7 linked regions of the Homo sapiens genome follow. The protein of the gene in region 3 purifies or fractionates together with the protein of the main gene of each other region. This does not show direct contact. Each region holds a gene or a part of one and is shown on either strand. Other genes may lie near its edges.

The links.
Region 1: the proteins of HABP4 (region 3) and CCDC137 purify together in Homo sapiens (affinity purification with mass spectrometry, with the first as the bait; one large-scale study listed by BioGRID). This does not show direct contact.
Region 2: the proteins of HABP4 (region 3) and PUM3 purify together in Homo sapiens (affinity purification with mass spectrometry, with the first as the bait; one large-scale study listed by BioGRID). This does not show direct contact.
Region 4: the proteins of HABP4 (region 3) and GTPBP1 purify together in Homo sapiens (affinity purification with mass spectrometry, with the first as the bait; one large-scale study listed by BioGRID). This does not show direct contact.
Region 5: the proteins of HABP4 (region 3) and TMA16 purify together in Homo sapiens (affinity purification with mass spectrometry, with the first as the bait; one large-scale study listed by BioGRID). This does not show direct contact.
Region 6: the proteins of HABP4 (region 3) and ELOA purify together in Homo sapiens (affinity purification with mass spectrometry, with the first as the bait; one large-scale study listed by BioGRID). This does not show direct contact.
Region 7: the proteins of HABP4 (region 3) and DIDO1 purify together in Homo sapiens (affinity purification with mass spectrometry, with the first as the bait; one large-scale study listed by BioGRID). This does not show direct contact.

The regions. Positions count from the first base shown.
Region 1 is NC_000017.11:81,669,737-81,672,067, reverse strand, and holds part of CCDC137 (coiled-coil domain-containing protein 137), read right to left. Parts: intron 1,844-2,331; coding exon 1,615-1,843; intron 325-1,614; coding exon 242-324; intron 1-241.
Region 2 is NC_000009.12:2,827,096-2,830,595, forward strand, and holds part of PUM3 (pumilio homolog 3), read right to left. Parts: intron 2,854-3,500; coding exon 2,679-2,853; intron 1,684-2,678; coding exon 1,580-1,683; intron 57-1,579; coding exon 1-56. UniProt on the Homo sapiens protein: Inhibits the poly(ADP-ribosyl)ation activity of PARP1 and the degradation of PARP1 by CASP3 following genotoxic stress. Binds to double-stranded RNA or DNA without sequence specificity. Involved in development of the eye and of primordial germ cells.
Region 3 is NC_000009.12:96,456,669-96,460,168, reverse strand, and holds part of HABP4 (intracellular hyaluronan-binding protein 4), read right to left. Parts: intron 1,791-3,500; coding exon 1,628-1,790; intron 1-1,627. UniProt on the Homo sapiens protein: Ribosome-binding protein that promotes ribosome hibernation, a process during which ribosomes are stabilized in an inactive state and preserved from proteasomal degradation.
Region 4 is NC_000022.11:38,704,463-38,708,743, reverse strand, and holds the start of GTPBP1 (GTP-binding protein 1), read right to left. Parts: upstream 2,801-4,281; 5' UTR 2,789-2,800; coding exon 2,597-2,788; intron 1-2,596. UniProt on the Homo sapiens protein: Promotes degradation of target mRNA species. Plays a role in the regulation of circadian mRNA stability. Binds GTP and has GTPase activity.
Region 5 is NC_000004.12:163,511,690-163,515,189, reverse strand, and holds part of TMA16 (translation machinery-associated protein 16), read right to left. Parts: intron 2,369-3,500; coding exon 2,331-2,368; intron 1,117-2,330; coding exon 1,032-1,116; intron 1-1,031. UniProt on the Homo sapiens protein: Involved in the biogenesis of the 60S ribosomal subunit in the nucleus.
Region 6 is NC_000001.11:23,749,971-23,753,470, reverse strand, and holds part of ELOA (elongin-A), read right to left. Parts: intron 2,627-3,500; coding exon 1,441-2,626; intron 1,065-1,440; coding exon 953-1,064; intron 1-952. UniProt on the Homo sapiens protein: SIII, also known as elongin, is a general transcription elongation factor that increases the RNA polymerase II transcription elongation past template-encoded arresting sites.
Region 7 is NC_000020.11:62,916,506-62,920,005, forward strand, and holds part of DIDO1 (death-inducer obliterator 1), read right to left. Parts: intron 1-3,500. UniProt on the Homo sapiens protein: Putative transcription factor, weakly pro-apoptotic when overexpressed. Tumor suppressor. Required for early embryonic stem cell development.

The sequences.
Region 1 (2,331 bases), on a different chromosome or scaffold from region 3:
GCAGAATACAACTGAGGACTGCTGCCCACAGCCACTGCACCCCTGACACCCAGAGCCACCACCCGCCCACCTCCCTCCCATAGGGCTGGGACAGAACACCAACTCATCCAGTGGTCTAATGGCTGTGGACCCCAGGGGAAACCACAGGTGCCCAGTGCAGCCAGGGCTGGTGGGGAACAGAAGGCCTGCGCCCAGGCCCCACCCGGACCACTGCTGACACCATCGCTTTGGGAAGAGCTACCTCGGAGCAACTCCTGCTCCAGCCTGTCTGCCGCCTTTTCCTCCTTTTTCCGTCGGACTTTATCTAGTCGCCGCTTCTGGAACCTGGGGAAGAAAGCACATGTCACTCAGATTCCTAAATTCTCTTTCCACCCAGGGAGGAGGCAGAGGCCGCCCCACCCACAAGGGATCCCCTGTGGCAGAGCAGGGACCCAAGAACAGGTGGCTGCCTCCAAGTCCCCGCTCCCCTTACCACCCCAAAACCCACAGCTGCCCACCAAAGAAGGCTCTGACCCCAACAGGCCCCTCACAGGTCCCCCAGTGGTTCTCAGCTGGGGACAGCTACCTGCCAGGGAACATCTGACAATGTGTGCAGACACGTGGGCAAGGGCTACTGGCACCTTGTGCACGAAGGCTGGGAAGGCTGCCAAAGACCACCCAACAGAGACTCATCCAGCCCATCCGGTGCTGCTGTGTCTAAAGGGCCTAACAAGCATTGTATATCACGTCTCCCTCAATGTGAATCTGGAAGCTTCACCTTCAGCGACAGCTCTGGAGATCACCGTGGCGCCAGGCTGTATCTGGGCCACGTTCTCTGTGATGAACTTTCACTGGCTAAGGTAACTATAAGTAATACAACAATCCAGAAACAGGGAATCTACAGAGCTGAAAGCAACCTCTCAAACCTTCAAAGCTTTTTTTTTTTTTTCTTTTTTTTGAGATGGAGTCTCGCTCTGTCACCAGGCTGGAGTGCAGCGGCACGATCTCAGCTCACTGCAACCTCTGCCTCCCGGATTCAAGCGATTCCACTGCCTCAGGCTCCCAAGTATCTGGAATTACAGGCATGCACCACCACGCCCGGCTAATTTTTTTTTTTGTATTTTATTAGAGACAAGGTTTCACCGTGTTGGCTAGGATGGTCTCGATCTCCTGACCTCGTGATCCACCTGCCTCAGCCTCCCAAAGTGCTGGGATTACAGGCGTGAGCCACTGTACTCGGCCAAAGCTTTTAGAGAATTAGGAAGGTGTAGTCTCTTGGACGAGAGACATTCTGTTCTAATGGAAACAGAACCCCTGGGCACGTCACCCTCAGACCGACCCCCTCAGGGCTGATTCCCACAGGGCTAGGGCTTTCTGGTGCTTTTCCTGTGAAAGCAAGGACCAAGCGAGGTCTCCGCAGAGTTCCCAGGTTCCGCAGCCTCCTGGAGGCCACACCCTCACTGGCTCCCAGCTGGATGCTCCGACTCGCCAACTCCCAGGGCTCTGGCTTGGTCTCCCTGAATCCAGGCTGCCCCATGGCTATGAAACAGGGTACCTGCAGAGGGCCGTCATGGGAACCCAATGTCTTCCCTCCGGCTCCCAGGGCAGACCCCTCCCCCTCCCGCCTCCACTCACGCTTTTTTTGCTTTTTTCTGCTCAGACTTCTCCTTGGGAGCTGCCTGCACCTCTGGCTGCCGGATGGCCTGGTTCTTGCTGAGGAACAGCACATGCTGGGCCTCTTGCTGCATGCGGTGGATATAGGCCCCGTCAGACTCCCCCTTCCTCTGTTTGAACTTGGGGACTGCGATGTCGGGCTCCTCTCCCTTTGCTTCCTTCTCCAATGTCTTTCTGAAGGTCACCTGGGCTGAGGACAAAGGGAGGCCTCAGAGGAGGCAGGAGGCAGACAGTGGCAGGCAGGTGACCCATGCTCATTTCCCCTCCCAAAGCCACAGGAAGGGAAGACCAGGCTGGCTGGAAGCACCCCAACGACAGCAGCTGAAGAGGATGTAGAATGCCCGGCCCGGCATCCCCGGGGACGTGACCCCCCAGCCCAATGGCACCTGTCACAGATGTCCACTGCAGCACAGCTGAAAAAGGAAAGCAGAAACAACCTAATGTCCACCCCTAGGTGGCTGGTTGAATGAATTCTCCTCTGATCACCCACAGACTCCATTGCACAGCTGCCGAAAGAAGCCCAGTGGAGCTACACAGAGAAACGTGGGCAGACCTGCCGGGCGCGGTGGCTCATGCCTGTAATCCCAGCACTTTGGGAGGCCAAGATGGGCAGATCACAAGGTCAGGAGATTCAGACCATCCTGGCTAACACGGTGAAACCCTGTCTCTACTAAAAAC
Region 2 (3,500 bases), about 94 Mb from region 3:
AGGTAAAAAAGTCCAAGAATACTTTATGCACCAATGAGTGCTTAATCACAGCTTCCCTGAAAACAGAAAAAAAAAGCAAAAAGACACAACAGATCTGGCACTACAGTCATACAAAGACAGGTAATCTCAAAGTCCTAAAGTAATCTAAACAAGTGAAATGGTTTTACTGAATACAATTTGTCATAAAATAGACTGTATTTTTCAGAAATACTAAAACTTAAACAAAAATTTAGATGGTAAAATTGATTTAGTGCCATCTACAACCAAGACCAGAGTATAAACTTCTAGTATTTAATCGGCAAACATAAAATCAACATTTGAAATATGCTCTGCTCTATTAAATAAGGACATCTACATTTTTTCCCCCAGCACTGGACATAATGATTAGAAATCCACATGTGGATGTATTTTTTTAATAGTTGTTTTATTTCTGTTAACACCCTTCACAATCCATCTGTTTCACAAAATAATTTTAGCAGAATTAAAACTTGAATGAACCAAACATTGTCAGCAATTGCAACAACACCTACTTAATCCAAACCCCCTAGTGTGACACTTGGTGGATCCAGGTGTACAGTGGAGGCCGATGGTCAGGCATAAAAGACCTAAAGTTCACAGGTGATACCCAAGTAGACAGCAAAAACTAACACTGCCTTTATGGGCAAAGCACTGTTCTGAGTGTTTTGGAACAACCAACCCATTTAATCTTCACAAAATTCCTATGAAGTCTGTACTATTATTATCCCAATTTTACAAATATGGTAATTGAGGCACAGGGAGGTTAAGTTGCCAAAGATTGCAGTTAGTAATAGTTGGGGGAGTGGGGAACCAGGAGTCGTACCCAGGCAGTCGGGTCCCAAAAGCTATGCTCAGCCACTCCACTACTGGACAGATGCCATGAAGGGCACATGCACAGGCTTCCAAGTCTTACAATCCATTTTTTAATTTTTTTTTATTTTTTTAAAGCAAGGTCTCACTCTGTTGCCTAGGCTGGAATGCAGTGGCACAACCATGGCTCACTGCAGCCATGACCTCCTGGGCTCCAGTGAGCCTCCTGCCTCTCAGCCTCCCAAGTAGCCAAGACTATACACACATGCCATAAAGCCTGGCTAATTTTCTTATTTTTTCGTAGAGATGGGGTCTTGCTATTGCCCCAGATGGTCTTGAACTCCTGGCCTCAAGTGATTCTCCCAGCTTGGTTCCCCAAAGTGCTAGAATTATAGGCGTGAGCCACTGTACCTTGCCTACAACCAAATTTGAGTAACAGATTATATTTGTGAAACTGTTTAGTATACATGGCTTCCATGTAACATTTTATTTGGGGAAAGAATGTTTCATTGCTTAAAAAAGCTCATAAATCACGAATGCATGTTAGTTATCATTTTATAGGGTACAATATCAGAAAAAGAAATCTCCTTTTGCACCAAGAATGGTTTCAAACCAACACTTTTGCACTCTTATTTAGAATAGATTAATACTTGTAAGCAGGAAATAGCTACCTCTTCTGGGCAACAGTTATGGAAAACCTTCCTCCTTTGAATGTCATTTCTTAAGAACAAAACAAAAACAACTTTCTTACTTTTGGGCCATTGGAGTTAGAATCTGTTTCATTTCATCCATAATAAGTTCTAATTTTTCTGGCTGTACCTCTAACACTTTGTCCAGAGTTCGGTGATCTGCTGACTGCAACAAAACAAAACAATCAAACCCCTCTAAATTTAATCAATTTTTTCACTTCAGGAAAAAGAAAAGTAATTAGTCATTTTAAAATAAGTTTTAACAAATTTAAGATTTCCCATATTTACATAATGAAAGCTCTGCTGTATATCCTTGTGGAGTAACCTGATTAGCTGATTCTCAGTCTGTGTATCTATCAGTGCATTTAAAGAGCCAGGCCAACCAAGTTAACCAGCTAACAGTTACTTGCCAAGCACCTAGCTCTTGCCCAATTATGAGATCAAGTAGTCACTTCACAAATTCTTGCCACCATATGTTTTATAATTAGTTGGCTATTCCTATTAAATATAACGAACTGTTAACAAAATTAGTACAGCAACAAATTCAACCCAAGAATTGAACCTGGCTAATGGAGGCAACCCGGGAATCAATCCATATCCCTTCAGACACATGTGTGCATTTATGTTCCAAGGTTTGAAATAGATTCTTTAACCAGCTAGTCCCACTGCTAACTATTCTCAGATTCAATCCCTGTACTCTATCCAAGGTTAGGTCTCTCTGTTCCCCTTCATCTCCAGACACAATCTGAAGAAGGGCAATGCATGCACATGAAAAAACACAGGAGAAGCTAGCAACAGAGAGCCCAATACACTTCAGCCAGAGCTGGTTGGGGGTGGTCACACAACTTTGCTAACTATTGGGAGTCTTGTCCTTCAGTATGACTGTAAAAATAGAAGTATTGAAGTGCTACACACAGAGCACTCAGGAGAGGAACAAAGTTTGAATTGAAGGGGATTTAAAGCCAATGCTCTGGAGAAAGAGAAACTTGCTCACTATACCAGAAACAAAATAAAGCATGAGGGAAAATCAAGGGCATAAGATGGTCTCTTAAAGAACCAGCCACAGTAAAAATACATTCAAAAGATATATAGGGCACCGGAAGTTAAGGAAGAGCATATCGAAAAGTAAAAATACTAGAAAAAGACTTCTGGAGATGTCACCTTGTAAAGCTGAAATGTGTTCCCATAGAGCTCTTCCGTCAGCATGTTCCTCTGCTCCAAAATGGCTTTGTCATTGTATGCGTACTCCACGATGGCTGATGCTTCCGCATGCCGCAGCATCTTCCTCACGTGGCCTTTAAAACTTCTGATTATCTCTGCAATCTGTGGTTTACTTCTAAACGCAACACAATCATGGAAAAATAAATGATAGAAGGAGAAAGCTGGGTGACAATAAAACACAACTTACTTCTCCCAAGACCAACTCATCAATCTGTGTCACTCTGAGGAGTAAATGAGCTAGCATGCATTGAGAAGCTGTGGCCAGCACATAGTAAATGCTCAATAAATGTCATTTCCTATTAAACTGTTCTGCTCGAAAAAAACAGTAGGGCAGGAAAAAAGATAAAAGATTCAAGGAAATAGAAAATCATATTCTAAGATTCCTTTTGAAGATGGGACTTAATCACAAGTATTTTAACTATATCCTAAAAGAATTAAACAGCTGGAAACTACAGCTAGGAATACATTTTTGAAAATTTTGTCAACTGCATATATTACACTTTTTGTTGTTGATTATCATATTCTAGCACATTAATACACTCAAAAAGATTGGTCAAGACAAGTACTAATTCCACTTAATTTAGGAAATTCTCCCATGTTGACATTTTCTAACCCACTGACCCTCTATCAGTTTACTCACCTGTCCCTCCCCAGTCTCCACCCTCTTAATACTGGTGGCTAATTATAAGTTAATTATTCTATTTCTCTTCTTCCAGAGGTTCAAGATAAACATTCACAAATCATCCATCATGTAAAATTATT
Region 3 (3,500 bases):
CTATTTTTTCATGTCACATATAAAGATCTATTTTATCCTTTTTAAAGACTACACAGTCTTGCTACTAAAAAAGGGGGGAAACATGGGTTTGTGCAAGTGAACTATAATTTCCTCATTTCCACAGAATCCCTAAAGTGAGGGGAAAATAAATACCCAAATGCTTCCAAAAATAAGCAGCTCTGCTACAAGAAGCTTTGCAGAAACAAGGAGACTGTGCTTACTACACAGCAGATTTGAAGTAATCACCAAAAAAGGTGCAAAATTAAGGCTTTCTGTAAGTTTCTCCCTCCAACATGGTTGCAGATAGACTATCTCAATGTCTTGAATGTGTAACTTCCAGGTGAACAGTTCTGCATGAGTCATCACCTGCTCAGCCCACCCAGGCTAAGTTACTCTCTGCTGGACTTTTGTTTTGTTTTGTTTTTAATAGGCTCTATAGTATAGTTTTACAAAGCCACATTTTTTGGTTAAAACTTGTAGCCAGAATCCTAAATGGAATGGAATTAGCAGTCAAGAAGCAGAAAGAGTTTGGAAAAATGGCTCCCTTGACATATAACTGTTCACTATTCTAGTCTTCCTTAGCTTGTTTAACTTTATTTTCCTTGAAATGTGATTCACTACTTGTTTCTGTTTAACATAAACAGGTTTAATGATTAAACAAAGACTTTAAGCAGCAAGTGCCAAACATAAGACACAACCCCTCCCCGTGTTGAGGTGGAGTGCGGTGGCCACCATGCTGCCACATCACTAAGCAGCGACGCAACACTCCACCAGCCCACGACTTCTGTCCATGTTAGAGTACTTCGGAGAGCAGCCATGCCCTCCAGAAATTGGTATTACACATCATAACAGACTCTTCTTCAAATTTCATCATGGCAGCCTACTGACCTGACCGTGGAGCTAGGAATTTATTTCAATCCATTGAGCAGTCTAAATTGGTAATGTGAAATCAAAAACCATAATTATATCCCTAGTCCAAAATTATATCTCTAATCTAGAACTTCAAAAGAAAACCAGTTCAACACACTCCTGTGTAATTTCTTTTTAAGAGTGCTCTTCAGTTACCAACAAGCAATTCATTTTTAATTGTACAATCATTTCCTGAACCAAGACGTAAAGGCATCTATGAGGAAAAAGGAAGATCCTTCCCATCATCTAAGGTAACATGAATTGCACATAAATTAGTAAAACATTCCTAGGACTGGTACCACAAAAAGCAGTAGCCAGTAGAAAGTTGTATTTTCTGGGCCGGGCATGGTGGCTCACTCCTGTAATCCCAGCACTTTTGGCAGGCCAAGGCAGGTGGATCACCTGAGGTTGGGAGTTCAAGACTAGCCTGACCAACATGGAGAAACCCCGTCTCTACTAAAAATACAAAATTAGCCGGGCGTGGTGGCACATGCCTGTAATCCCAGCTACTTGGGAGGCTGAGGCAGGAGAATTGCTTGAACCCGGGAGCGGAGGTTGCAGTGAGCCGAGATCGCACCATTGCACTCCAGCCTGGGCGACAAGAGCGAAACTGTCTCAAAAAAAAAAAAAAAAGAAAGAAAGAAAAGAAAAAGAAAGTAGCATTTTCTCAAAACCTTTCTGGTTCCCCACCCGCCCTGCTGAGGACTGCAGCACATACTTTTCATCTGGAAACTTCTCAGCTGTGAAGTCTGCCTGCCTCTCTGTCTCATAGGGTCGGTATTCCCTGTAGGATCTCCGCTCAGCTCTTTCGAGCATCCCCTCCGGCCCACGGCTGTCATTCCATCCTTGCTGCTCCCCTCTTCTAGGAGTCCGCTTCTGGCCTACCAACAGAAAATCAAAGCAGAGAGCTGGAACACAACATCTGCAACAGCACACTATTAAACTTTACAGGTACTTGTAAATTTCATTTTTCTAGAAATCAACGTCATAGGAGAATTCAGGAAGTTTAGAAAACTTCAAAGAAAAAAGTTGCTGATACTACAACTGCCCACAGTCTACTTTTTAATAGGATGTTACTATTAAATCATGCTTTCCCTATATCCTAGAAAGTATATGACCAACTAAGCTCACCTATAATTACAGGCATCTCCCAATAACTGTGACAGCCATGGGTACATTTTACTAAATAAGCTACAGTTCACAAAAGCAGTCTTACAAAAACACAGTGTGTAAGCCGTACCTAGAAAATGAAAGAATACCCTATATTTCAGACTGTACTTTTAGAATCCCAACTGCACATTACATAGCAACTATGGCTTATCACTGGCTACTAAGGTTTTTGTTTTTATTTTGTATTTTTTTAATTTATTTACTTAATTACTTATTTTGAGACAGAGTCTTGCTCTGTCACCCAGCCCGAAGTGCAGTGCACTGTTTAATCTTGGCTCACTGCAATCTCCGCCTCCCAGGCTCAAGCAATTCTCATGCCTCAGCCTCCCAAGATGCTGGAATTACAGGCATGTGCCACCATGCCCAGCTAATTTTTGTATTTTTAATAGAGACAGGGTTTCACCATGTTGGCCAGGCTGGTCTCGAACTCCCAGCTTCAAGCAATTCACCCACCTCACCCTCCTGAAGCACTGGGATTACAGGCATGAGCCTCAGCGCCTGGCCAAGGTTTTTGTTTTTAAAGTTTGTAGTGCTTATATTTTTACTTTGAAAACAGATTTTCCTGCTATTCTATGAGATATATAGACTTGCAGTTATAACTTCCTGAATATGAACCAAACACTGCTATTTGGCAACTTGCCCAAGAGTCAGCCAGTACTTGAGGGCATCTCTTTTTGTCCACTCAGTCCAGCACTTGGACACTGTGCTGGGACCACAGACTCTGGTTTTGTTCTTGTGTTTTTTTTTTGAGACTGAGTTTCACTCTTGTTGCCCAGGCTGGAGTGCAATGGCCCGATCTCGGCTCACTGCAACCTCCGCCTCCCGGGTAGAGATTAGCTGGGATCACAGGCCTGCGCCACCACGCCTGGCTAATGTTGTATTTTCAGTAGAGACGACGTTTCTCTAACCTGGTCAGGCTGGTCTCCTCAGCCTCCCAAAGTGCCAGGATTACAGGCGTGAGCCACCGTGCCCGGCCGAGACTCTGGTCTTTTCCTCTGTCCTGTCACCTTGCTTTACTCCCCTTTAGTTTTAATGCTTTAAACATCTTAAGCAAAGTCTATGTTTGAAGCCATCTAATACTTGGTAAATACATTGTGGAGAACTTTGTCACATCTTTAATCTTCAAAAAAAGTCTATCTTTTTTTATATACATTTAAAAGATCTCCTCTCACTATGTGCAATATTTACTATAGTGGCTTCAATTTTTCTTGGTACAAATTACTCTCCACATTAGTTGTATAGCTATGACATTTATTCAAGTTAATGGATATATATATATATATATATATATATATATATATATATATATTTTTTTTTTTTTTTTTTTTTTGAGATGGAGTCTTGCTCTGTTGCCCAGGCTGGAGTACAGCGGCGCCATCTCGGCTCACTGCAAGCACCGCCTCCCGGGTTCACGCCATTCT
Region 4 (4,281 bases), on a different chromosome or scaffold from region 3:
AGCACCCTCATCTAAAAAGGCTGCACAGCCCCTTCATGCCCTCTCTGCTTCTCCTGAAGTAGCCTTTGAGCCTCAGGCCTTATATGAGCCAAATAATATACTACAATGTGTATGTCTGAGCCATAACCCATGGTAAAGAGGGCACAAGCAGCCTGCCTCCTGCTGCTTAACAGGAAGGGCAGGACCCAAGTGACTGAGAATATGGCACTGTGGATAGAAAGCGCAGTGCTTTCCATCTACATGCCAAAGTCTTCTACCTGCAGTTGGCATCTGGAAGCCCACAAGACATATACCTCATATACCTCCATGCCCTCCACCCACAGGCCAGTGGCTTCCAGGATAACAAAAGAATTCTGTTCTATCTTGTCTTAGCTATATTGAATATTTGGGAATGAAAACTGCCTGCAAGACTCATCTTCATCAACAAAGCACCATCACCATTACCACTACGAGGAGTATTAGCACCGTCATTTTGCAAATGTCTGCCAATAACATTGAAGTGTCAACCATTTACTTGGGTAAGCCATTTGGCAATCAGACCCCATTCTCTAACCACTCCTGTGTGACCTTGGACAAAGAATTTAACCACTCTGAGTTTCAGTTTTTCAATCTATAAAACGGAGCTAATACTACCTGCATCCTAAGGCCACTGTAAAGAGCAAATATAATAACATGTAAAGCATCTAGTCCACAGCTCAATAAATGTGAAACTACAAGGTTTTCTTCACCCAATCATTCCCAGAAAAACCTTGTTGGATGAAACTAGCCACCACTATTCACTAAGTGTTTCTCCCTTTGGAAGCTCTCGGAGCCTTAGGTCTCCACATTTTCTATCGTAAGGACATGAACCTTTCGCTTCTAATCTGTTCCTCCGGAATCAATCTATTCAACCCAACCCTTCTCTCCCTCCACACCATCACTTTTTCTTTTTGATATCATCGATATTAATATACATATGATTTTTTTTAATTGTAAGGAGGACTTCCCCAGCTATGTGATGAAATAACACTTCTAGGAATATTAAATGAGCTGGTCAAGAAATGAAGGTACTACCGTCTTTGCAACTCTGCCCTGCAATTTCCTATCATGTTTCTTCAGCACCTTGACCATGTGTTGACATCCAGTTTGTTTGCTCTTGAGTCAGGTCCATAATCTTGTAACTTCCTGAGTTGACTCATCAGAGCTTGTAATTGTAACCTGGATGTTTCCTGGGTCTTTTACATCGTCCTGGCCATCCCTCTCTCTAAGTTTGGCCATCCTCATTATGGCCTTACAGGCACAAGACAGGACCAACTTTGACAGGCTAGCTGGCTTCCAAGTGCTCACCTGAGACTACAATGGCAAAGAGCAGTTGAAAATAACTTGCTTAGGTTGCAGGGAAAGTTCCTCCCCAGTTTAGGACCAAGTTTCATGCAAATTTGCCGCCATAAACTATAAAAAGTCACAAACATTTTCAAAGCTGGATAAAATGTCTATCGTAACTATCCTACAAATGTAAGTGGTGGTATTGGTGTTCTATCTTTCACCCACTGCTATTTAATCTGCACAGGAAATTAGGAACTATCTCGTTCACTTCAAACATTTACTGAGTCTCTAGTATGCATCAGGCACTATTAGGTGTCTTCTTAAATATTTCTAATTTTTACAACCCATCTGTACTTTCTTAAGATGAGGTGGTTGGAGAACTGAAAGGTTAAGAAACTTTCCCAACGTCACAGAGCCTTTCGATGGTAGGGCAGGAAAGGGAACCCAGCCCTGTCTGACTCCCAAGTTGGCATTCTTTCCCTAAGGAACGTTAAGCACCTTCAAAACACCAGTCACATCTTGTATTTACTTTTCTATTCTTCACAATGTCAAGCCGTTGGCGAGGCCTTAATTCCTGCCTACCTTCTCGACAGCTCAAAAAACACGGTTTTAAACGTCCTTCACTGCTCCACTCATACAAGATGAGCTTCCACTCACAGGATAGCGAGACTAAGGAGCCTGACCATCTTTCCATTTTGTTTCGGGTGGCCTCGAAAAGTAGACATTCTCGGACATGCTCCTCCCCAGCTGAGCGACTACTTTCTGTTTCCTTTCCCGAGTCTGGGAAGAGACGCGGCGGCCACCCTGCCCTGGCCTCCGACTACCTGTCTTCATGAGCGTCTCGGCCCCCTGCCCGGGCCCCCTCGCCCCTCTGCTGTCCCGCGCGGTCCAGGGAGAGGAGACTCTCGGTCTCCGAATCCCCTCAAGTGGGGACCCGAAGAACGGGGAGGGGCACTGAGCGGGGACAGGGAACGCGCGGAGCGCAGCTGGCATCGGGCGCCCCCGTTCCACGTGGCAGAGCCGAGGGGTTACGATCTCGGCGGGAGACGGGAGGGCGGGAGGCTGGGTTGGCGACGCGGGGGAGCCAAGGTGGGTGCGGGGACCATGGGGACGGCCCCTCGCGCCGCGAACCCCCGCACGTCCCGGAGACTAGCAGGTGGGCGGGCTCGGCCCCTTCTTCCCGTTCCGCGCTCCCCGCGGACAGGGCGGCCGCTGGCCCCGCCGTCGCCCGGGAGACTGCTCGGCCAGCCGCCCGCTCCCCTCAGCGCCCGCCGCCGCCGCCCGGGCCTACCTTGCTGGTGAGGTCCAGCTCTGGCTCGCCGTTGAGCGCCTCGCCGTCCTCGCTGCAGTCCGAGTCAAAGCCGCCGTGGAGTCGGGCGGCGGCCGCCGCGGCCCTGGCCGCCCCCGGGGAGCTGGGCTCGGGGGCGAACATAGAGGCCGGGACCGGCGAGTCCATCGCGGAGCGACTGCGCTCCGTCGCCATCTTTAATAACTTAGGCTAATTCGTAGCCGGCTTCCCTCCCTCCCAGGCTCATTTGACTAATCTATGCACAGAGCCCCGCCCCGCTCCTTATCGGAATAATTTATGCAAAACTCCAGCCGCGTACTGGGTGACACGTACCTCTAGCTAAGAAACAGTCGACTAGGCCTCTCAGCCACCAATCCCTGCAGAGCTTTCAAGTACCTAATGAATAATTAATGAGGCCCAAATCCCAACAACAAATGTCTGAGACGTCACGCGCCCTGCTCCCAGCTTGGGAGGGGGCAGTACCGAGTCCCCGCTACCCGCCTGAAGCCTTCCCGCCAACGGAAGCAGAGAAGTGTCTGACTGACACAGCAGCCATCCAATGAGGAGAGAAATACAAACAACGTTACTCGTCAACGCCCCTTCACTCTCCTTGTTTCCAGAGGCGGTACTAAGCCTGCAAATCTTACTGCAAAACAGTAGGCGCTGTAAGCCTTCCGATGACGGACAAGGGCAGGACCCAATCGAGTCATAGAACAGGTCCCGCGCCTGGACCTGCTCATGGAGATAGTAAACTGCAAAATGAGCCTCCCACTCGATTCAGTGACTGAGGCAGTTGCTGGAACGCCGATGTCCAACGTGCTGGCATGCTCCAGGCAACTTTAATAGTAGGATCGATGCTGTAAGTTCCAAGAGTTGTAATACTATAGCAGCCAGAGTGAGGCAATAATTAAATGCTGACCTTAGGGAGAATTCTCCATTCACTGCCTTTGCGGAGGCAATCACACGAACTAAAAACAGAGGCAAGCAGCTAAAATTAAAAGCCAAAAAACACCTCACCACTTTTGTGGTGAACTGCTAAACCGAAATCTAGGGTCTCATAAGGTAGTTTCCTATGGATTATTTTTCCAGTGTCATCAGTTGTGAAAAGCCCCAACCCAAAATGCCATCAACACACGTTTTAGTGTCTTGAATTCCTGTTTCAAAAGCCGGAAAAGCCTAGGCCGTCATTGTTTGGCGAAATTAGGGATTAACCAACGTCTATGAATGTCGGCCTTGGCCACTCGAACCAGGCATCAAGCAAACAAGAGCATGTTTGAGAAGATAAGGAATCCAAGACTTAGGGTTTGGACCTAAACCCTAAATCTTTAGTGAGCAAGTGGCAGGATTGAAAATGGCTTTCAGTTTTGGGGATCTACCTGAGAAGAAAGAGACAGTCTCTTCTTGTCCCTGTTTTCCACTACTATCAAGTCTTATTTGCACAAACACAGCTGGGAATCTTGGACAGGAAGTCATCTGATTCCAATGGTCTTGATACTGTTCTTATGTGCTTTTTAATTTCTTCCTTGCCAAATTGCTCACCTCCATCCTATATGGGCCGGGAGCAATGGCTCACACTTGTAATCCCAGCACTTTGGGAGGCTGAGACGGGTAGATCACCTGAGGTTAGTAGTTTGAGACCAGCCTGGCCAACATGGTGAAACGCTGTCTCTACCAAAAATTAGCTGGGC
Region 5 (3,500 bases), on a different chromosome or scaffold from region 3:
CTCAGGTCCTCAAACCTCTTTTACCCATTCCCTGGATAACTCGACCATTTCTTTAACTTCAGTGACCAAATCGCAGCCTTCTATCAAACTGCAGACCCTCACATTCAACCACCATCTCAATCTGGATGTCCCCTAGTGGCTTCACCGTTAGCACATCAAAACTGAACTTGTCATCACCCTGTCCCCACCTACCCCCCACCAAACCCCCTCCATCTCCTGGGTTCCCTATCTCAGGAAACAGTTGTCCAGACGAGGAATCTGATGGCTTCCTTGACTGCTCTCTATCCCTTTTATTCCACACCTAAGTTTTCACTGAACACTGAGACTTCTACCTTCTTAATTTCTTTGGAATCTTTCACTTCTTTATCAGGCTATGAGCCAAGCTGAGGCCACCATCATTTCTGGCCTGGATTGTTACAGCAACCTTTCAACGGTTTCCTGACCAGAGTCATGAACCTCTCAGTCTGTTTTCTTCATTCTCAATGTGTCCCTTCTAATGTTAAGTATGATCATTTCAGTTGCTTGCTGTAAAAGCCTCCTGTGGTTCCTAATGTCCTTGGATAAGGTCCCAACTTTTAGACTGACATCTGAGGTCTTTCATGAGCTAGCTATCACTTATTGTACCTGCCACAGTTCCCTCCTTCAACTTATTTTAGTCATATTAAATGTCTGGCAGATCACTAAATACGTTATCTTCATTCTCACTTCTGGGCATTTTTAAATATTCTTCTTTCTTGCTAGGGGTTTTTCAAACTACCTTGCCTCGATCTGCTAACCCCCACCTTTCAGCTGCCAGTTTAGATGACACTTCTCCAGGAAGCCCATCCTGATCCCAAGAAAGTGGCCTAACTACCACTCTGAGACCCAAATAGGTTACAAACCTCCTATAGTGACTAAGCCAGGAAATAGTCTTCCTGATAACAAAGCCCATTTGCTCTTCTGCAAATCCGTAACAGAGCTCTGTGTCTTAAAGAACCAGGCTGGACAATTCCCTTTTCTGACCCTTTGCTCATAATATGCCCAGTGTTTACCTTTCAATTAGTTCACAAGCATCTTTCTTTGAATATCTCTTTTTTTGGGGATCAAGATGATTTTGAAACCATTGCAGTTTTTCACCTATAAACAACAAGTACCAAGACAGTTTACCCCACAAGTCATCATTTAAGCAAGTAAATATTCATTATCATTTTCAACATTAACGTGTTTAAAACAGAACCAAAATTTATGTCAATGTTAAACATAAAGCCTTGTGTGGGCTCAAAGCTAATTAAACCAGTCTGTCACAAATTAAACTGTCAGATTTTAATTTAGAGAAGAAAGAGGAGTGGGAGGGATGCGCTTCTGTATATATTTCTTATCCAATATGGATGCAAAAAAGGAAAATGATTATTTAGTCGAGCTTGAACTTCTAAGTATTTAAAAGCAAAGGACAGCTTGTCAAAAATAATAAAATGAAAACTCCATTAATGATGAGAATGATATTTGCTGAGTATTTAATAAGCTGTAGGCACTATGTAAATAGCTTTATAATCCCATGAGAATTAGTACTATTATTACCCCCATTTGTAGATGAGAGATGTTAAATGACCTGTCCAGGGCCCCAAAGTTAGCAAATACATTAAGCATATAAGAGCTGCCAGGTACTGTGTAGAGTAATTGATATATATTACCAAAGAGCCAACAAAATTCACCCTTGTGAGTAAACCTGACCGTCAGGGTCACTTTCAGTTAGATTTCTCAAGATTACAGATCAAAAAAAATCACCCGGCCCTGTACAATGAGATCCCATTTAAAAATACTATTCTATTACCTGATGAAGCATTGATGGGAGTTCAAATACCTTTAATTTTAATAAAAGAGCCTAACAGTCAGTATTTAAATCTCAGATTTGTGAGTAAAAAATTATTAGCAATAAATCTGACCAAAAAAACAGTGACATGACACTGAGATACAAACTGAAGATGTGTATGTCCACATCATTAAATAAATATGAATTGTGGTTTCTACCTAGGCCATAATCCTTCATAATTCTAATGGTTAGGGAGGTAGAGTTAAACATCAGATAGATGGACAGATGGATATGAATGTTATGTGTAGACAGGTAGGTAGGTAGATAAATATAAACTAACAGTTTCTGGAAAACTGAGCTAGAAATCATTAACACTGTTTATTCCAAAAGTTTAATGATTGATTTGCTTTGTTTAGATCAAGTCTGATCAAATTCACTTTGATAAAAACAGTATTTCACTAAAAGAGTAAAAAGAAAAACAAGTATAGGGCAGAAATGCCCTATACTCTAGCCAGAGTTTCAAATAAGTAAACCCACTTACCAACAAGGTTGAGACGCAAGGCCTTTTCATTCTTCAATCTTTGAAGGAAAGGTAAATATATGTGTTAGAAAATTTCCAAAGCAAGTTTTAAAACTCTGACAATAACAACGAAAAGAAAAACTGCCTAAAGAACTCTAATTAAAAGGTCATTCTTTTACAAATTTGAGAATAATTTTGTTAACAGAAACATTAAATACTATGCTTCTCTTTTGAATCACTAGAATTTTATCAGAAACTTCCTTTAAGCACCTCAATGTCTAAAGGAAGCCTATAGAACAAACCAGTTTTGAAAACACAACTGAAAGCTTTTCTGAATTGTGAACATTCAGATGGGTTCTGTAATATGCAGAATACTTGAGCACAAGAGTAATGCAAACCTTCTGGAAGACTGAGTACTGCCACCAAGATCAAAATGCACTACTGTCATCTTTTAAATTTCAATAAGAACAAAACAGAATGGTTACTTTCAATGAATTTGAAAAGAATTATAACAAACAAAAATTTCATCTATGCTCAGAAAGTGTATAGGTAACACATGCCTCCTATTACTGATATTCTAAACACTTACTCATTCAGGAGACCTCTGGATACCAAGTCTTTGCCAGACTTTAGTTTCTGATAGCCCCAAAGGATACAGCCATGAACAAAAAAAATTCACTGTCCCTGTCCTGAAAAACCTTAAAATCTAAGGGCAATAAAAACATGGAGAAGCATACAGAGCTATAAAAGCATATTTAAAAAGCACCTACCATATGTTTTAGGATTTGGGAAGGTTTTCCAGAGAAGTAAATTTTAAGCTGAGACCTGAACATACAGAGAAGTTATTCAGGATTAAAAAAAAAAAAAGATAGGGACTACGGGAATGGTAAAAGAAAAATCTTAGCCATAGGAGAAGGCTTTGTATAAAGCAGGAAGTATACATGGCTTTTATCCACAAAGAAGTAAGCAAACCAGATTTATCCTCCCATTTTACACAACTAGAAAACTGGAGAAATAAAATGAAATCTTTTGTTATTATTATCATTATTATCATTAGAGACAGGGCCTCACTGTGTAGCTCGAGCAGGACTGCAGTAGTGCTGTCATTGCTCACCACAGCCTCAAACTCCTGGGCTCAAGCAACCATCCTGCCTCAGCCTCCCATGTAGTTAGGACTACTGTTATATACCA
Region 6 (3,500 bases), on a different chromosome or scaffold from region 3:
ATCCTATGTAACACATAGGATAAAGGGCTGCTAATAACAGCAGCAGCAATTTACTGAACAATTACTATGTGATAAACCCAGAGCAAAAAGGCATCACTTCTGAATTCATTAAACTGAGCCCTATGGGGCAGATACCATTATAACTCCCATTTACACAATATATACAACTAAGGTCCAAAGAAATTAAGATATTTCTCAAGGTCATATAACTTGCAGAAACCAGAGTTGGGATTCAAACCCAAGCCATCAAACTTCAGAGTCTATGCACTTAGGAAATGCATCAAAAATCTGATGTTATGGTGATAGTTTTTTTGTTTGTTTTTGAAACAGTCTTGCTCTGTCACCCAAGCTAGAGTGCAGTGATGCAATCAGAGCTCACTGCAGCCTTGAACTCCTGGGCTCAAGTGATACTCCCACCTCAGCCTACCGAGTACCTGGGATGTGCCACCATGCCTGGCTACTTTTTTTCTCTTGTAGAGACAGCATCTTGCTGTGTTGACCAGGGTGGTTTAGAACTCCTTTTTTTTGAAATAGAGTTTCCCTCTTGTCACCCAGGCTTGAGTGCAATGGCGTAATCTCGGCCCACTGCAACCTCCACCTCCCAGGTTCAAGCAATTCTCCTGCCTCAGCCTCCGGAGTAGCTGGGATTACAGGCACGCACCACCATGCCTGGCTAATTTTTGTATTTTTAGTAGAGACAGGGTTTCACCATGTTGGCCAGGCTAATCTCGAACTTCTTACCTAAGGTGATCTGCCCGCCTCGGCCTCCCAAAGTGCTGGGATTACAGGAGTGAGCCACCACGCCTGGTTGGTTTAGAACCCTTGGCCGCAAGCAATCCTCTTACCTCGGCCTCCCAAAGTGCTGGAATTATAGGTGTGAGCCACTGTACCCTGCCTTGAATGAATTTTTAAATCTTTTTCCCATTAAGAAAAAGAAGATATAGAAAATTACCTTTTCGCTTTGGCTGGAAGGAGGATATCAGCTCGAGGGAAGGCAGTGGACGGTAATTGGCCTGTATCGCGGGTAACGGGAGGTCTGGCAACACTGGCAACACATCAGGCACCTGCAGGGGACAGACCCATGGGTGGAGAGTCAGTGAGTAGAAGCACAGCTCTCTTTCCTACAGTCTATTCCCGGGAGCATTAACTGGACATCTTGCACAGGAAGATCCAGGTTGGAGGGGGCCACAGTCATGTCTGACACCACCTCAGTCAGGAAATAAATACAGATGAGCCCATCACAAGAGAATAATGCAGAAAATTCTTATTTGCGGTACCATATACCCTGACAACCAGTGAAGCCCAGAGGAAATTACTGCACACTGAAATTCAACATGCCCCCCAAAAGCAAGCTAAGGAAAACAGTGGCAGGGCAATCCTCTGAGCTCTGCAGGGCCAGGTGCTCTGGGTGGGAAGCCACCAAGGGGCTGAAGGGGTTACCTTTCTCAGCTTGGCTAAATCAGCTCCAGCCGGCTTCTCTGACTTGGTTTTGTTCACCTTGGGTAATTTCTGAACTGAGTCCAAGTTTTTACCAGTGCTTTTAGAGTCATTTTTTTTAAGTCCTTTATCTCCAAGTGCCGTGGCTGAAGTTTTCACAATCTTTTTCTTTTTCTTCCGGGGCTGGTCATAGCTGAGGTAGGATTCAAAAGACATGGTTGGCTGCTCGAATTCATCCTCCATATCTGTCTCCTCAACTTTAGGGAGGGAGCCCAGTGACTTTCTATCCAAATTAGTTTTGACTTTCCCTTCTGGAGTCTTTAGGTTGTTAGAACCCTTCTCTTTTACCTTGGGCAACAGGTCTCCTGCTCCTTTTCCTGTGTCAAAGCTGTCCAGACCTTGCTTGCTTTTGTCCAATTTGGCTTTCTCTGGGTCTCTGTGCTTTGGCTTTTTCAGGTGGTTGTCTGAAGCGGCCTCTGAGGGAGGCAAACACTTCTTCTTCAGGCTGCTGCCCTCTCTGTCCTTCTCTTTCTTTACGCCACTAGAGGGCGGTTTCTCCCTTGCATTGTCCCCTGAGGGTGGCCTTCGGTTCTCCTCTTTGGAGAGGGCCTTGTGTGATTTCTCTCTGCTCACCACAGAGGCCTTCTCATCACTCTTGGCATCCACGGGGCGTTTGTCCTTGTGGGAAGATTTGTGCTCCTTGTTTTGACTCACAACCCCTTTCCCATGGGGTTCACCCAGGTGTCGTTCTTGGCTGGCCCCGAGTCTGTCCTGAAAGGCATTGCTGTGGCCTTTCCCAGGCTTCTGGTGTGAAACAATGGGCTCCTGGTCCTCCTCCAGGGATCTGTAGTGGTCGACGTACATCTGATGAGGACTGGTACAAGATGGAGGGGATTGAACATGGCCATAATCAGAAGACTCAGGGTCTGAAGAGTAAGTTGGTGACATTCTGTGACACCTCTTTCTCTCATCTCTCCTCTCATGACCGTGAGACACTTTGTGAGGTCTCTCGAGCTCCGAGAGTTTCCTATGTTTCTTCTGCCTGTGGTCAGGGCTATAGGATCGGCTCCCCGTGGCTTTCCAGGTTTCTTGGTAGTCCCCCTCCATCTCCTCCTCCTTCTGCAGGGCATCCCGAGGGCGCTTTCGGGAATTGCTCTTCTCAAAGTCCTGTTCATCAGGCTCAGCATTTCTAAAATAAAAGAAAAAGCAGACAAAGTAGGTCTAAATCTTGCTTCTTGAGGGACAAAGTCACAGAATCTGAACTCACCAAAGAAGTGAAGATGCAGAGTTAGAAACAACAAGGTCTTAAGAAGAAGATAAGTAGGTTATGCTTAAAGATACTCAAATCTTAAAACTGGGAAAACCCAAATGAGAAATGGTGAGTTTAACCACAAGATGCAAAGATCAAATATCTCATATACATGAAAATGTGGAGATTTATTAAAACATGGGGACATGTTTAATTTGTTATATAAAATGGGGGCTGCTCACTATTTATCTAGTTCACAACTTAAAAAAATGCCATTTAAGGAGCAGTTAGAAAGAAACATACCAGGCCAGCCGCGGTGGCTCACGCCTGTAATCCCAGCACTTTGGGAGGCCGAGGCGGGCAGATCACGAGGTCAGGAGATCAAAACCATCCTATCCTGGCTAATACGGCGAAACCCTGTCTCTACTAAAAATACAAAAAATTAGCCGGGCGTGGTGGCGGGTGCCTGTGGTCCCAGCTACTCAGGAGGCTGAGGCAGGAGAATGGCGTGAACCTGGGAGGCGGAGCTTGCAGTGAGCCGAGATCACGCCACTGCACTCCAGCCTGGGCAACAGAGCGAGACTCTGTCTCAAAAAAAAAAAAAAAAAAAAAAAGAAACGTACCAAAATGTTCATAACGTTTGTCTTTGCGTGATAGAAATAGGAAATTTTGATTTCTATTTTTAATATTTTCTAATATTCTACAATGATCATGGATTATTTTTTATAATTGAGGCAAAACAATTTCAGAAGGCAAAAGAGAAATAATAAAGAAAACCTTTTCTATCTGTAAATTTAACCATGAAATTGAACAA
Region 7 (3,500 bases), on a different chromosome or scaffold from region 3:
TTTTCAAAATTCTAAGTATGTATTAAAAATAAACCTATTAATACATTAATAGTATCTTTAAATGAAAGTTATTTCTAAAACAAACAAAAATGAACAGGAAGAGTGGCCCTGTTGTACATTTTTGCAAATTTCTGGCATAACCGAAGACAGCTCCATGTTCATGTCTACTTCTGCCCTCAATCTGTTCCCATAGAGTGTTTCAGCTAAAACATGTCATCAAAATCTTGCCTCACACAGATAGGTCTTTAGAATGGAGTATTGTAACCATCTTCACATAACTGGATGTTCACTGATACTACACCAACTCTCGCCAAGGAGCAGTTTCATAAAAGTTAGCTGAAACAGAATTTGCAGCCTTTGTCAAGGAACTTCTCCCTTTCTTTCATGAAAACTGACTGCTGTGTTCACTCTGAACACGTCCTTGCACTCTGGACCCATGTGCATGCTGTTCACCTGGATGACACGGGTTCAAGTAACAGACAGATTCTCAATGTCCACACATCTCATCGGATAGCATAAAACAAACATTTTTTTTCCTGTTGCCCAGGATGGAGTGCAGTGGTGCAATCAAGGATCACTGCAGCCTCAGCACCTCCCCCACCCACACCACCGCCAGGCTCAAAGCGGTCTTCCCACCTCACCCTCCCCAGTAGCTGGGACTACAGGTGCATGCCACCATGCCCAGGTAATTTTTGCATTTTTTTTTGTAGAGACAGGGTCTTACTATGTTGCCCAAGCTGGTCTCAAACTCCTGGGATCAAGTGATCTACCCACCTCCGCCTTCCAAAGTGCTGGGATTACAAGTGTGAGTCACCTCACCTGGCCGATAATGTCGGGTCCAATCTCCAAGAAGACTTTAATTACTAGAAAGCCATCAGGTTTACAATGGCAGATACAAGTTTTCTAAAATTCCAATTTTCACCCCAAAGCTCAAATTTTATCCTTAGCAACAAATACTGTTCGTTTTTTCTTTGAGACATCACTCGTTTTGGACAAAACGCCTGCCACATGCTGAGTCTGAAAACTGTCCTCCGTCTGTTGTTCTGTCAGGGACAGACAGCGTTTCCGAGACCACTCGGCTCCCAGCTCAATCCCCTAGGGCTGTGCGTGGACAGTACCACGTGGGGATGCAGCAGAAGCTTTATATATAACTTGACATTTAATCACAGCGAAAGTAAAAAAGATGTATGTTTGCGGGTTCCGAAAAAAATTAATATTTACTGCATCATCAGGGACATTATTTGGGAAAATTGGCATATTCTAAACATTCGGTGCCCATGCACGGTGCTGAAGAGGGCTCCAATCTGCCCTGTGCCACCGATGCAAATGTCAAACTCACCAGAAAAGGCCTGTACTATTAGACTATTATTATGCAGAAGTCATCTTTACCTCTTAGCCCCAGAAAGGGCTTCAAGGACTTCCCCCTCAGGAGTCCATGAAACACAAAGAACTGTGGCAACATGCCATTTCTACCAGTTTAGGAGTACACTGGATATGTGCAAAGCAGTAATACATACCTATGCTTCAGACATCAGAAGAGACTTTAAACATTTCCTTCCACAAGGGTTCTGTAACTACCTGTTAATCTTCCCTCAGATTCCCCAACTCACCAAAACAGTAAGCAGCCAAAAGTGAAATTTCTTAAAAACCAAATAAAAATATCTTCCCAAAAGGTCAGCTCTGTTACTTTAAAAAGCCTAACTGCAACTATTACAATGCATGGGTTTGCAACCACTGCAAATCTGTATGCTCAACTTTTACTACTCTAAAATCTGCTTGAAGTCATTAACTCAAGCGTGCCCACTTCCAGGTTGTGGTACAGCTGCATGATCAGGGCTCACTGCAGCCTCTACCTCATAGGTTCAAACGATCCTTCTGCCTCAACCTGAGTAGCTGGGACACCACTGGCGTGAGCCACAGTGCCCAGCTCCCACCTAAAGATTTTCAGTTCCAAAAACTTGAGACTAGTTTCTGAGTAATTAATCTCCAAGACACTTTAAAATATGACATACAACCATAATTAAGTTTCTATTTTCATAACATCGCACCTCCAGGAAAAGAGCTCTGACTTCTAAGCAAAAAGATAAAACAAAAATGCATAGTTTACCTCACCTAGTGGCAAACATTCTGTTTCTTCAAACCTCACATTCCCCTGAAACAATATTCAAAACAATTTTAACCCGCCAGTCAGAAATTATAATGCTACAATAAAACCTCACTATTCTAAACTTCATTATTTTCGCTAATTCTGACAGGGTAGGCCAAAGTTTACATTTATTTATATTTTGCCTATTAAGGGTCTCCTGGCTCATCAATCTGTTTATTATGCAGATGAGGAGCAACTGAGAAGACACTAGGTAAAAGATCTTTAAACTACCACAAATGAAGGAAAGATTACCCAATGAAAGACTCTTGATAGCTCAGTTTTCATTAATGCGACAGTCACTAGGAGAATATGCCTAGAAACTTCAGATGACATCCCCAAATGCGACGTGTTCTCCAGCCACCAGCAGCAGCCGTTCATGTACCATGATGGCCCACTCAAAGCTCCACCAGCTTGCGGCAGGAAACACTGTGCTGCACTCACCAAACAGGAAAGAGATTTGGGCCCACAAGGAACTGAAGAAGCCCAACTTTCATTTACTTTAGTATCTATGCAGAATCTGACTCAATTGCATAGATTACATTTAAATCCTTCAGACGGCAAATTCAAAGTTTTGCTGCTTACCAAATAATACCGTCATTACAAAAATTATTCTGGGCCGGGTGCGGTGGCTCATGCCTGCACTTCGGGAGGCTGAGGCAGGTGGATCACCTGAGGTCAGGAGTTTGAGACCAGCCTGGCCAACATGGTGAAATCCCCATCTCTACTAAAAACACAAAAATTAGCAGGGCTTGGTGGCAGGTGCCTGTAGTCCCAGCTACTTGGGAGGCTGAGGCAGGAGAATCACTTAAACCCGGGAAGCGGAGGTTGCAGTGAGCTGAGATCGTGCCACTGTACTCCAGCCTGGGCAACAAGAGCAAAACTCCCTCTCAAAGAAGAAAAAAAAAAAGCAGCAAGGGTGCCACAACACAGTATGTTTCTCACAAAGAAAATGTAGAGAAAAATCCAGAAACAACCTATTGTTGTTTTACATTTCTTGGGTATTTGTGTTTTTATAGATACGCGGAGACAAAAAGCAAAACTTGTTACTGAAAAACCTGCTGAGGACTAATGCTTTGGCCAGCCCCCGGCTACAGCCGGGCCGCCAAGCTCCCCATGTGAGCTTGCAACAATCCTGCCATTTCCCTCTATCTACTTCCTAGTGCAAAACACAGGCTGGTGACCTTGGTGGGCAACTCAGGTGGGAAATTTCAACTCTCCAAATGAATGCCAGGAACCAGAAACAGTCACATAAAATCATTTATCGAGGTGAAGGAGAAGTGAGGTTTATTGTTCTCTATTTAATGGCTGGACATAAAGTCTCCTAAACCACTACCTTTGATGGACTCCTCTTGTC